2 separate regions of the Homo sapiens genome follow, and region 2 is linked to region 1. The links come from fine-mapping of genetic effects on gene expression. Tissue or cell type: whole blood. Region 1 holds a variant in brackets; the other region holds the start of a gene. All regions are shown on one strand. Distances are from middle to middle.

Region 1 (2,500 bases):
GGGCCCCTTGGTACTCTGGCACCACAGTGGGCCCCAGCTGTCTCCAGAGGCCCTGCTGCCACGTGGCTGGGGGCTTCAGTGACCTCGAAACCCTGCTCCCCCACCCCCACCACTGAGGGAGAGGCCGTTTGTTCCTTCTCAGTGGGAGATCGCAGGGGAACCCTCTGACGCACGCAGAGCAGGTGCGCGTGACCACCCTGCCCGCTCCGCATTCCCGTGTGTGTGTGAGCAGGTATGGCCTGGGACTTCCAGGGGTTTTCATTTTTAATACCTCGTTAAACTCGAGTGCTTTCAGGACTGATTCGGTCACAGCAACTCTCTGGTCTCATTTAATGCAGTCTCTGCAGAGGGAGGGGACCGGCGCAGAAGGGCAGCTTTAAAGACATACGCATTCATCTTGCCATTTTCCAGGAAGGAGTAGGCAGCTGGGCTTCGGCCCGAATGAGAGGGCTGTGCTGTGTCTGATGAAGGTCCCTCCCCCTCTAAATCGCCCTCCTCGTGCTGTTCTGGAACTCCAGGAAGAGGAAGACTTCTCCCTTTTGACGTTATTTCCCTTGTATTCAGCGTAGATCTGACTGACACACAGTGGCACTTAAGAAATATTGCTCTAAAATGAACAAGCGTCACATGCTGGGTTTTATTGTAGAAGTCCCATCACGTACGTAGTATCTCCTATATCGATTGCCCAACTCCTATTCATTCTACAAAACCCAACCCACAGGTCACCTTCTCTAAGAGGCAGCCCCCAACCCTACCAGGCTGAATTGAAGTTCACCTTCACCAGATGCTTAGAAAGGACAGCAGGACAGTCTCTGCCACCAACTTTCCCTTGTCTTCCTGCTTCTGTTTCTCACTGCTGAGATAAACGCTCCATAAGGGTCATTCATAAAGGAGCAGAGCACAGAGAGGACACCTAACTAGGCCTGGGCCTGGTTCACTGTGGTAGGAGGAAGGGCTGGGGATAATGAGGTCCCGAGAGCATTCACGATTCCCATACTGGAGGATCTGAGCCATAGGTCCATACGCTGTTCGACAATCCCTGCTCCTGTCCCCTGAGAGCCAGGCCCTGGGCTTTGCCGCTTCATCTCAGCCCTCACAACTCTGCAAGGTGGGTGCTCCAGCCCCCATTTTGCAGTTGCACAAATTAAGGCTCAGAGAGGGTAGGTGACTTGCCGGAGGTCACACAGCATGCCTCACATAGCAGAGGGGGAAATGAAACCCTGTGCTGTGGCCCGGGACATTCCCCTGGGCCTAGTCCTTGTGACCTGGCCC[A/CA]GGGGCTGTTCTTTTTTGGTTCCTGAATATTTTTAGATGGTGGGAGGCTCTTTTACTGCTTAGAAAGAAGCCCCCAAAAAGAGGGAGTTACGGCCAGGAGGGACAGTCCGGTGGACGGGTCTCCTTCCGGGAATCTGGTAGCTGGGGCCTGTGCAGGTACCCGCCTATGTGGCTTGGCGAGCTGGGTGACTCTCATGCCCTCTCTGAGCCCTGGTTTCCCCACCTGTAGAAAAAGCAAGGCCTCCCTCCCTCATGGGTCGTGGTGAGGGTCTGCCAGGGCGTGTGAGAACAAGCTCCCTGATGTGTAAAGCGGTTCTTGTCTGTCTGTCTGTCTATCTCTCCGTCCGTCCTTCCCCACATGCACACCATCCAGTTCCCAGCCGGCTTCTTCAGAGGCTCGATGCGCCTTCTCTCTGCTGCCCCCACCCCAGTCCCCTGGGGATGAAGCACCCTGAGGTGTGGACGGAGGTCAGGAAACATCCGACTCGGTTTCCTAGTAACACACTAATGGCAGCTTGGTACCCTGCTTGGCAGCATCAGACAGCCCGGGGCCAGTGCGGCGCATCCCAGCCTGTCAGCAACACTATTTTATGTCCGCCGTAAACACACAGGCTCACCAGGGGCAGAAAGCAGAGTTTGTTGGTTTTCTTTTGATTTTCTGTGGGCGGCGGGGGCAATGGCCTCTGAGCAGCTGCCTTTCTGTAACAGAATCGGGGCAGGTGGGCGAGGTTGTTGGGCTGGGGCCTCAGGGTCTCGGGCAGAAGGTGAAGGTGGCAGGTTTTGCCGTCCCTGGAGAGCTACAGCCGTGCTCGGGGCCCCTCCTGGAAGATTTCAAGCTATTGTGAGGACAAAAATAATGGTCGGGATTTAGCATCTGTCAGCGCAGCTGACTCCCAGAAAACAGCAGGAGTGAAAGGATGAGACGGGGCAGGAAGGAAGGAGGGGTGGTCACTGGCCTGGGGTGGAGGGAGCTGGGCTGGGGCCCAGGTCTGGCCGTGGAGGCCCATTCACGTCTGGGCTTCCACATTCCTGCCTGGCCATCTCGGGCCTCCTCATGGACCACTGGACAGAGAAGAATGATCCCTGAAACCCACAAAAGCAACACAGCTGAGCAGGAACTAACGCAGCACCAACCCCCATCCAACTTTTTAGTCTCCTAGGTTTTAAAAAATCTGTCATTTTTAATGCTGACCACACTATGTGTTGAGACCGGCCCCTGTGCTAAATG
Region 2 (2,610 bases), 170 kb before region 1:
GGACAGACCGCGCCCCCACCACCCAGGGTGTGGCCTAGAAGGGAGATCAGGGCGGATCAGCACCGGGGCCGGCTGCGACCCTGGGCCGGAGAGCACCTTCCTGCCCTCACTCATGTCACGCATTCCGCCCTGGACGCCAGGAACTGCCCGCTGGGCAGCTGCGAGTGGCCAGGACTTTGGCCAAAAGCTGGGGAATCCTGGCCTTTATGCAGGGTCGGGGGTCTTCCTATGGGCCCCCGGCCAGGGCGGAGGACAGGAAGAGGGCTCTGGGAGTCCTGGGCCCGTGTGCCTTCAGCCTCAGCCTCGGGTATCCCGCCGGGGCGGCTTGATGGGCCAAGGGGGCTCAGTAAGCTTCGGCCCAGCCCGGTGCCCTCTCCCGAGTCTGTCGTTACCGAACGGCCATGCGAGGGCGCCCAGCGCGACAGGGACCACCTCCTGACCTCCACGGAGGACCAAAGGCACCCGGGGGGACGCCCGGCCATCACTCCACGGGCGAGGTCGCTCCCCCAGGGAGAAGGGCTCCCCAAAGTCCGAGCGCCCTTGGAGAAAGTCGGCCGGACCTGGGCCTGCGCCGCAACCCCCGCCCACCGCAACTTTCGCGGGCGGTAGCGGGGCAGGAAGTGGGGGGGCGGGGGCGGCGCTTGGGACACGGGGAGGTGCCAGGCGAGTGCTCCGGCCCCGCCCCTGCCCCGCCCGGCCGTGGCCGCGCCCCCTGCGCCCCCAGCGCCCCGGAGCCGTGGAGCCGCCGAGCCGCCGAGTCGTCGAGTCGCAGCGCCGGGCGTGGGGACTGCGGGTGGGGCGAACAAAGCGGCGGCGACGCGGGCGGCCCAGGCCCGGGACGCGCGGAGCGAGCGACCCCGCCGGGCCTTTGTCTCGGGCGGGGCAGGAGCCGCGGCGGCCGCGGGGCGCCCCGAGCGCAGAATGCGGCGCCCGGCGGCGCGGATTGGGGAGCGCTGCGGCGACTGGCTGCGTGGAGCCCGGCCCGGGGCCCGCAGGCACTTGCGTGTGTGAAGCGGGGAGATCCGGCGCGCTGCCCGTTGCCCGCCCCGCGGCCGCACGTGGGCGGGAGCGGCGGCCCGAGAGGAGCCCGAGGAGTAGGAGGAGGAAGAGGAGGGGACGCACGGCGGCGCAGCGGGGGACCTGGGGCAGCCCGCGCGAAGCCCCGCCCCGGCCCTGAGCCCCGCGCGCGCGCGGGCGGGATGCCCCGCGGCCGCTGCACTTTGGCTCGAGCACTGCCCTGAGCCGGTCGGGCCCGCGGGCGCCATGGAGCAGTGGCGGCAGTGCGGCCGCTGGCTCATCGATTGCAAGGTCCTGCCGCCCAACCACCGGGTGGTGTGGCCCTCGGCCGTGGTCTTCGACCTGGCGCAGGCGCTGCGCGACGGGGTCCTTCTGTGCCAGCTGCTGCACAACCTCTCCCCCGGCTCCATCGACCTCAAGGACATCAACTTCCGGCCGCAGATGTCCCAGGTGAGCGCCCGGCGGGCGGGAGGGCCCCGGGGAGGCGGCGTTCGCGCTGCCCGACGCGCGGACTGAACGCGGAGGTCGCAGCGGCGGCGGCCCAGGCGCCCTGGCTGGGGCGGCCGGGCTCCGGGACGCGGGCGGGCGGCTGGAGGGTGCGCCCCGGGCCTCCGAGACGCGACCTCAGGAGGCGCGAAGTTGGCCAAAGTCCCCTCAGCCTGGGTCGCGCCGCCGCCGCCCGCGGGCACTGCTCTGGTGCGCCGGTTCCGCGGTCTGCGCGGCCTGGGATGGGGGAGGCTCCGGCGCTGCGCTCGCTCTGCGGGGCCCTGCGAGTGGCCCCTCATTTCCCAGGGAGCCTGCCGAGCCGGGTGTGCGCGTCGTGGGTCGCATCCTTGGGCCTCGCGCCTCCTGGCCGGACGCCGGTGGAAGAGCGGGCGCGGTCGCTGCGCCGGCCCGGGGCGCGGCTGGAGGGCCCGGGAGGGGCGCGGGGCGGGAGCCCTCGGGGCCGGAGGGAGCTGGGTTGGCCCCGGGCACCGCCCCCTCGCCGGCCTCCGCCTCTTCCCGGACCCGGACCCGGGCCACTTGGCGCCAGTCCTGGCTCCCGGGTCGAGCCGCCTCGAGGATCCCCAGGGCCACTTGGCCCCAGTCCTGGCCCCCATCGCTTTCCCAACACCCCCACCCCTCCTTCGGGCGCTGAGTGTGGCCTTTGTCGCGGCGGAGGCACGCGTGCGGCCGCAGGGCCAGGCAGGAAAATGCCTGCCCAGCCGAACGAAGCTGCTTTTCTTGGCCTCTTAAGAGGGAACTTGGCTAAGACTTGAGAGAATCGAGGCTTCCGTCCTGTTCTCCGGGGGTCGCGGAATCCTTACCGGGAGCAGCTTAGAAGAGGTCGGGGGAGGCAGAGCGGGTGGCAGCCGGGTCCACCCAGCGCCGAGGAGGTGCGGTCTTCCAGCCAGCTCAGCAGCCCCTCACCGCGCGCAGTGGCAACTCCATGTGGAGAGGGACCATTCACCAGTGGGACTTAGGACGTGGTTCCTGGGAAGGAGGGAGAGTGAGTCACCAGCGATTCCAGGCTGGGCAGCGAGGCCTCTGCCCTTTGGCGGTGACTGCGTTTCCTAGGAGACCGGGCCTTTCTCTGCCGGGTTGGGGGGCGCT

The links. PIP is the estimated chance that this variant, and not a neighbour inherited with it, causes the effect.
Region 2: VAV2 starts here. The variant in region 1 is fine-mapped to the expression of VAV2 in whole blood (TOPMed, PIP above 0.99).

Annotation. Positions count from the first base shown.
Region 1 is chr9:133,821,591-133,824,090 of GRCh38, reverse strand. The region is part of intron 4 of VAV2 (vav guanine nucleotide exchange factor 2); the gene reads left to right. Among named protein-coding and RNA genes, the nearest start is that of SARDH, 84 kb to the right of the region's middle. RefSeq lists enhancers at 888-977, 1,318-1,367. The variant A/CA (reference allele first, on the strand shown) is at 1,273.
Region 2 is chr9:133,990,932-133,993,541 of GRCh38, reverse strand. VAV2 (vav guanine nucleotide exchange factor 2) reads left to right here and starts at 1,218. Exons shown (of 30, transcript NM_001134398.2): 1 at 1,218-1,467. The coding sequence starts at 1,264. RefSeq lists enhancers at 1-95, 1-719, 1,448-2,175, 2,176-2,610 and silencers at 506-815, 916-1,015, 1,076-1,225, 1,496-1,585, 1,626-2,065.